Linked DNA regions of Homo sapiens: regions 1 and 2 are each linked to region 3. Evidence: fine-mapped expression QTL. A gene starts in region 3. Each other region holds a variant in brackets. All regions are shown on one strand. Distances are from middle to middle.

Region 1 (2,680 bases), 35 kb after region 3:
TTAATCCTTACCAATTTGATAAATTTTATGTGTTCATATATTTAATGTTTTTTTATTCTTGTTGGCCCCCTACCCCTTTTTTTAGAGACAGGGTCTTGCTATGTTGCCCAGACTGGAGGGCAGTGGCTGTTCACATGATCATTGTGCACTGTAGCCTCAAACTCCTGGGCTCAAGCGATCTTCTTGGCTCAGCCTCCTGAATATCTGAAACTACAGGTGAGCCCTGCTTGTTTGCCTTTTATTAATAATCTATTGGATTTTTCTATATGTAATAGCTGAACAGCTTTTTTGCTTTAAAGTTCATTTTCTCAGTTTTAAAGTACTGATGGGCAAAGTCCATTTTTTTTCCTCCTACTCTTCAGCTGGGGGCTGTCGTGTACTTTTTTAAATAGTGTGTTGGAAAGTTCTTTATATAGGAGTAAAGTTTATTTTTGTCATTTCCAGGAATATTAGGGTCATTGGTACTAAATATGCCTAGTGTTAAAGCAATCCTGGTATAAAAATCTCAACAGAATGGTCAGAGAATAGAACCTAATGCAGAAAAAGCTTCAGGCAAAATATTATACCTAGATTTCTGATCATAAATAAGATGCTCTCCAGCTTTATCAATTTTTTGTCGCTTTCTTTCCATTGACATATTTGGGATCTAGAATTTTGGAGTATGTGACATTTTTCAATTTGAGATTTGGGAATAAGGACTTAAAACATACGTAAAATACTGAAACGTTAACGAAATTTAAGTAGGAAGAAAGTTTCCTCAAAATTGGAATTTCTGCATGATATCTGTTAAGGATGAGAGTTCTTTCATGTGTAGTCAATAAAAGAAATCATGCATGTGGCCCAGGATAATTTCACTTTAAAAAGTTGGATTTGTTCCAGACTCTAAATGCCTGCTTCACCCTGAAAATGATTGACCTAGAACTATCTACTGATTTCAGTAACGCCGAGTAATTATCATTAAATTCAGTATTTTTTAATACTTTTCTAAATACAGTCAAGATATATGCAATTAAATGTGGTCTGCAAAGCTGAAATCTTAATAAATCATGGAGGCTAAGAAAGAAAACCACCATCTTGAGCTCA[G/A]GACAACTGAGATATTGATGACTTTCCCCTCAAATGTTAATAGGCAGGGTAGAAGGGCAGGAAGTTTTTAAACCACTGACTGGTTCATTATCCTGATAAATGTCCATCTTGAACTTAAATTTATTAGTTTTTTTTAATATATATTGCCTGATTACTATTTATGTTTCAAAAATTCCAACTATACATTGCTAGCAGAAACCCACAGGCCTGTTTTCAGTGAATAGCTAGCTGCATGTTGGAGGCTTTTTAAACCTATAAACGTCTTTTTTTCCAGTAGACTAGCAACTTAATTTGATGGTAGTTCCTGCCTCCTTCTTAAATAGCCCAGTTTTAGAATGTAACATTTCCTATCTGTAGTAATAGGAGGTCCCTTAACTATCATGATTACCATAGATTTGATTTGTTGCATAGGTTAGGTAGTACAGTCTGCAAGTATTAGTCCCTTTCTGTTGCATGTGCTAGCACCTTCAGTTCACAAGGGGGTAAGAGGAATCCAGTTGATTTGAAATACCTTTTGAGTAACAGTCTAAGTTGTTCATTCAGAAAGAGTAGAAAAGTCAACTGCATCAAGGTTTTAAAAGCAGCATTTATTGATTGAAAATAAATGTGTAGATAGGCTCTCAGTATGGAATCCATGTTATTTTTTAATGAAGTACATGAAGACTCCTTAGATCTTCCACCATGTATCTTGTGTGTGCTTATAACAACCACCATATTCAAATGGAGGGGAATTTTCAACATTTTACTGAAAAAAAAATGAGAAATTCTTCCTTCAGCAGCTCTGCATAGTTTGACAAACTTTTGGAAAGAGATAAAAACACACTCCAGTGTTTGTACGTTGAACGTTTATTACAACTAATTGGCGATGTGATAAGACAGTGCTCACGTGGCCTGAATGTTGGTCACAATCACAACAAAGCTTAATCCAGCCCAGCATATATAAGTGAAAATATAAACCATGAAGACATGTTTAGATATGTATAAGTACTTAGAAAAGTGACGCTGAACAATTACATAGCTTTAAAAAATATAGAGCCATCTAATGCCATTTTACCTCATTCAACTCTTTTTTGTAAGAAATGTGTCTTTTTAAATTTTTATAAGACTTCTGTTAACTAGGCAGTGCCATGGAAAGAAAGGAAGCTGCTGTAAAGTGTGCAGCACTTCTAAGTGGAGGGAAGCAAAATAAATTTAGCTTTAACAAGTACCCCAGAGGGAACATTCGTGCTTTAAACAATGACTTTACACATAATACTGTGAAGAGAGCAACACGTTTTTTGTAAGATACTGTTATGAAGAATTCCTGGCAAATTACCATTCTCACTTTATTTTGGGGCATCAAAAACAACTAAGTATTTGATTATGACCACAAAAAATTCATCTCAGGAGTCAAATGTGCCTTGGCCTTAAAAATTATGTGCTTACTATTGTGAAACAATCCTGTTTCTCATCCCAGATTCAGAATGCCTAAGAAATAATTTTTAGTGTAAGAAGTATCACTCCAATTTAGTCATTAAAAATAATCTGTAGTCCTTTAAAAAAAAAAAAAAAAGGTATGTAATTTCCAATACAAGTCTTTGGAGTAAATTTGCTTTTT
Region 2 (2,680 bases), 23 kb before region 3:
TCATGTGCCATCCTTTGGGAAACATTGTTTAAGGCCATCTGGGTCTGTTGGTGGAATAGCTAGAGAAGGGAGGAATAAAAAAGATAAGAAAGAAAAATGATACTGATATATGTTCTTTTAAAATATATTTAGTGGGTATAAGTTTAGTTTTGTTTTGTTACATGGATATATTGTGTAGCGGTGAAGTCTGGGCTTTTATTATACCCCTCATCATGCATCTTTCTTAATTTCCCCAAAACTCTAGAGTGTGCCCCCTTCTCAACTGGAAGTCCATAATATTACCTTGTTTATACGGATTCCAGAAATCTTCAAAACAACAAGCTAAATTCCTGTGTTCTGGATGACTGTCTGGCACTCTGGTGAGCTCTACTTGTCCCCCATGGGGCTCTACCATTATCCTTGCCAGACGTAAACTAATGGGCAGACCCAGTCTATAGGATACCAACCCTCATCCATTTACTCTGCATGCATAGTAATCCTTTTGAATTCTCAACCCCATCTAGGGCCCTAGCAGCCTGCTTTCTTCTGGGGATCCTTGGTATTGGTCAGCTTTCTAAAGCCCTTGACAGTATAGGGACTGTCTGTTGCCAATATATCATTGCTTCATTGAGTTGGAAGTCTTAGAAAGTTGCTTAATGAGTTTCTTAACTAAGTGACTTGAGCCCAAGAACTTTCAGGGTAAATAGCTGTTTTATCTTTTAGTCCTCTCTTTTTCTTTTGAACAATAGATTCTAGAATTTTTTTTTTTTTTTGAGACAGAGTCTCGCTCTGTTGTCCAGGCTGGAGTGCAGTGGCATGATTGCAGCTCACTGCAGCCTCAACCTCCTGGACTCAAGCAATCCTCCCACCTCAGCCTCCCGAGTAGCTGGGACCACAGGCATGTGCCACCACGCTCGGCTAATTTTTTTGTTTGTTTGTTTGTTTTTGTTTTTGTTTTTAAGACGGAGTTTTGCTCTTGTTGCCCAGGCTGGAGTGCAATGGCGTGATCTCGGCTCACTGCAACCTCTGCCTCCCGGGCTCAAGTGATTCTCCCACCTCAGCCTCCTGAGTAGCTGGGATTACAGGTGCCTGCCACTACACCCTGCTAATTTTCGGTATTTGTAGTAGAGACAGGGTTTCACCATGTTGGCCAGGCTGGTCTCGAACTCCTGACCTCAGGACCTCAGGTGATCCACCTGCCTCGGCCTCCCAAATTGCTGGGATTACAGGTGTGAGCCACTGCACCTGGCCTTTTTTTTTTTTTTTTTTTGAGATGGTGTCTCACTCTGTCGCCCAGGCTGGAGTGCAGTGGCGTGATCTTGGCTCACTGCAACCTTCACCTCCTGGCTTCAGGCAATTATCCCGCCTCAGCCTCCTGAGTAGCTGGGATTACAGGCACATGCCATCACACCTGGCTAATTTTTGTATTTTAGTAGAGACGGGTTTCACCATGTTGGCCAGGCTGGTCTCAAACTCCTGACCTCAAGTGATCTGCCCACCTTGGCCTCCCAAAGTGCTGAGATTATAGG[T/C]GTGAGCCACTGCTCCCAGCTCCGGCAAATTTTTGTATTTTTTGTAGAGATGGGGTTCCTGAGATCAAGTGATCCTCCCACCTCGGCCTCCCAAAGTGCTTGGATTATAGGTATGAGCCACCGAGCCAGGCCTCAAGAATTCTTATCTACCCATTTGCATGAGTAATCTTAGATGGAAAACAAGTCATCAACGTTTTTGTCATAATAGCTTCTTTTTAGATACCTACAAACCCAACTGACTAAATCACCCCTTGAACCTGTCTTCCCTGGGAGTGTCAGTCACACACTTACAAAATATGCAAGAAAACTTGTAGAGAGTTTGCTAATTTTTTTGTTTGGTTAGAAAGAACTAAAACTGATAGCCCTTTTAAATTATGCTTTAATAATTATTTTCTTTAAGATAGCATCAATTTTTAGTAATTACCTAATTTTCTCTCTCTCTCTCTCTCTCTTTTTCCACCTTTCAGTGACTGCCTCTTATTTCCTGTTTATTCTTTGCTGCTATTTCTCCATGTTGTTGCAAAACAATCAATAGCATGCAAAGAGGAAAAAAAGAGTGAATGAACATAAAAAATAAAAAGTGAAAGAAAGCAAGACATTTTAGAAACAAAGGCAAGAAACAATTCTAGAAAAGTAAAAACCTAATAAATATCGATGTCTATAAATTTCAAAGACAAAACCCTAAGAAATGCTGCCACAGTGTGCTTTGTGAGGATTGGAATAAAGTGCAAGGAAAAGGAGCTGGGGAAGGTATGTGACAAAAACATCATACCAGTCCTTTTGGGATGCAGCTAAAGCAGTGCTTAGAGGGAAATGTATAGATGAAAATGCCTACAATAGAGAAGAACTTTCTCAAGTCAGTATCTCAGCTTTCCGCCTTAAGAAACTAGAAAAAGAAGAACAAACTAAACCCAAAAGCAAGTAGAGAGAAGGGCATAATAAAGAACGAGCAGAAATCAATGAAATCAAAAGTTGGTTCTTTGGGAAGATCAACAAAGTTCACAAACTTTTAATTGGGGGAGACCAAGAAAAAAATAAAAGAAGACTCAAATTACTAAACTCTGGAATGAAAGAGAGGACAACATGACCTACCTACCTTGATAGGATTATAAGAGAAGGTATGTGAACATCTCATACCGCAGTCCTCTCCTGGGTGTTGTTTGGTATTTGGT
Region 3 (2,680 bases):
TGGGACTACAGGCATGTGCCACCACACCCGGCTAATTTTGTATTTTTAGTAGAGACGGGGTTTCACCATGTTGGCCAGGCTGACGAACTCCTGACCTCAGGTGATCCACCCGCCTAGGCCTCCCAAAGTGCTGGGATTACAGGCGTGAGCCGCTGCACCCAGCCTCGAACTGCACTTTAAATTGGATAGCTGGGCGGGCGTGGTGGCTCGCGCCTGTATTCCCAGCTACTCGGGAGGCTGAGGTGGAAGGATTGCTTGACCCCAGGAGGTCGAAGCTGCAGCGAGTCGTGATTGCGCCACTGCACTCCAACCTGGGTGAAAGACAAGACCCTGTCTCTAATATATAAGAAATGAATAAATAAATAAATTCGATTGCCAAAATTCTTGCTGTTCCCAGCATATTCCACTTTCACCTTTCAGCGCCTTTGCTTATGCTGATCTGACTGTAACTGCATTCCCACCCTTCTCCTTCTGGGTAAAGGGCATCTTCTTTCCAAACTCAACTCTTAGCATCAGAAAGCTGTCCCTGATACTGCAGTTGAGTCGCATGTGATACTGAAAAAAAAAGAAAAAAGGAAAAAAAAGAGAGCTCTCCCTGAATCCCTTGGTGGACTATGTTAGGTAAACTTCATCTTTGCCTGCATCATATTATGTATTGGTTCTTCTCTGCCCCCTCGATTGTAAACTCCTCAGGGGCAGAGGTAACAGCTTTGCAGCCCTGGGAGTTAGGTTTGCTTAAGGGACCAGAACAGGTGTGACTGGCAGGGAGCGAAGTCTGGAGCTTTGTCTGAGGCGCTGATAGGTGGATCGGCGGAAGGACGCGGAACCTGGACAGGTCGGAAATAAAGCCGGGCGAGCAGCTCTGTGCGCGATGTGACTTCATGAGTGGATGCTGAGAAAAGCGGCAGAGTACGACTTTAACCGCCTAGCCACAACACGTCCTGCTAGGGCGAGGAGGGAGACAGTGATACAGCACTGGGCAAGTGCTGAAGCGACAATTACTTCTAGGGCGGGGTAAAAGCCCCAGAGTATTTTTGCTGGAAGGAGGTATTTATTTGAGCAGGGTTCTGGAAGACGAGCCGCCGAAGGGTACCTCCGGCTTTCCGTTTCAAGTCCCACGCTGGTGGAGGTTGCTCGGTACCCGCGCCTGCGCGTGCCCGTCTCGACTCTTAGGCCCGCCCTTTCCTGCCAGACCTGGAGGGGCGGGGCGGTGCCGGCAAGATGGCTGCGCCCGAGAAGATGACGTTTCCCGAGAAACCAAGGTAAGCGCCGTACGGGGAGATGAGCAGGCGAGCGGGCCGATCGTGGGCATGGAGGATGTGGTGGCAGGAAGAAAAGAGAAGCTGGGCCAAGCTAAGTGAGCCACCGCGGCAGCTCCATTCCTTCCTGGTGCGCGCTCTGGTGCCCTCCCCGGACTTGCACGGGCGGCTGTGGCTCAGGCAAGCGAGGAGAGGATCAGGTTGGCGGATGGAGAAGAACTGTCTGGGAGTGGGAGGATGAGGCGATGATAGATGGCTGTTCTGTAATTAAAATACAGGAAGCAAGGTTTCTCTCCTCAGCACCCGAACTATTTCCTTTCATTGGGCACAGAGGAGCGGGGAGCTCGGGCAGCGCTGCATTGTAGCCGCTGATCGTCGTGTATATGTCTTAATCTTCCAGCCACAAAAAGTACAGGGCCGCCCTGAAGAAGGAGAAACGAAAGAAACGTCGGCAGGAACTTGCTCGACTGAGAGACTCAGGTGATGGACTCTTTATTCTGTTTTCTGTGTTGTGAAATTGCTCTGTCCACTCCAGCCCTAACTTGAAGCCCCAGTGTCAGAAGGAAGTCAAATATTGTGTCGGAGGAAAAATAGCTGTGACTTCTGCCCCCAAGTAGTTATTTAGAAACACATGTCAGAAACAATGTTAACATACTAAAGGCAGGAAGAGGAAGTCTTGGTGAATGATCGCCCACTGATTCTGTGTAACTTATAAAGTATCTAATATTACAGTTGCAAGCTTCATGAATTACAGCAGCTAGCACAGTCCTTGCACACGTAGTAAGTATTCGGTGAATGTTTTTCTTCGTAAAACCAGCAGGAGTTGAAGGTATTAATTAGACGTTTTGCAAGTTTTTCTCAAACTTGACTAATATGAGACCCTTGGTTTACCCAAATTATTATGTTATTCAAATATATATCAACATAATACTAGTTATGAAGCTCATTTATTTATTTTTGAGACAGGGTCTTGTTCTGTTGCCCAGGAGGGATGTGCACAACCACGGCTCACAGCAGCCTCCACCTCCCAGGCTCAAGCAGTCCTCCCACCTCAGCCTCCCTAGTAGCTGGGACTACAGGCATTCACCACCACACCTGGCTAATTTTTTCTTTTCTTTTCTTTTTTTTTTTTTTTTTTTTTGAGACGGAGTCTCGCTCTGTTGCCCAGGCTGGAGTGCAGTGGCACGATCTTGGCTCACTGCAGCCTCCGCCCCCTGGGTTCAAGCAGTTCTCCTGCTGCAGCCTCCCGAGTAGCTGGGATTACAGGCGTGCGCAACCACACCCGGCTAATTTTTGTATTTTTAGTAGAGATGGGGTGAAACCCCATCATGTTGGCCAGGCTGGTTTCGAACTTCTGACCTCAGGTGATCCACCCACCTCAGCCTCCCAAAGTGCTGGGATTAAAGGCGTGAGCTACCGCC

Direction of the effects. Alleles are on the strand shown, and positions count from the first base shown. SD is a standard deviation of normalised expression in the study named. Not every link is listed here.
For the expression in nucleus accumbens of the gene that starts at base 1,210 in region 3, A is the low allele of the variant in region 1 and G is the other (moderate effect, 0.48 SD a copy in GTEx).

Evidence for each region.
Region 1: its variant is fine-mapped to the expression of ZRSR2 in nucleus accumbens (GTEx, PIP above 0.99). The same link has a PIP of 0.9 or more in prefrontal cortex.
Region 2: its variant is fine-mapped to the expression of ZRSR2 in blood mononuclear cells (TOPMed, PIP 0.93).

Annotation. Positions count from the first base shown.
Region 1 is chrX:15,824,157-15,826,836 of GRCh38, forward strand. It overlaps AP1S2 (adaptor related protein complex 1 subunit sigma 2), which reads right to left. Exons shown (of 6, transcript NM_001272071.2): 6 at 1,650-2,680. Among named protein-coding and RNA genes, the nearest start is that of AP1S2, 29 kb to the right of the region's middle. The variant G/A (reference allele first, on the strand shown) is at 1,084.
Region 2 is chrX:15,766,668-15,769,347 of GRCh38, forward strand. All of the region lies in intron 3 of CA5B (carbonic anhydrase 5B), which reads left to right. It overlaps CA5BP1-CA5B (CA5BP1-CA5B readthrough), which reads left to right. Exons shown (of 12, transcript NR_160544.1): 7 at 1,976-2,626. Among named protein-coding and RNA genes, the nearest start is that of INE2, 20 kb to the right of the region's middle. RefSeq lists an enhancer at 2,521-2,680. The variant T/C (reference allele first, on the strand shown) is at 1,509.
Region 3 is chrX:15,789,275-15,791,954 of GRCh38, forward strand. It overlaps ZRSR2 (zinc finger CCCH-type, RNA binding motif and serine/arginine rich 2), which reads left to right and starts at 1,210. Exons shown (of 11, transcript NM_005089.4): 1 at 1,210-1,262; 2 at 1,660-1,739. The coding sequence starts at 1,222. RefSeq lists enhancers at 1,088-1,537, 2,196-2,680.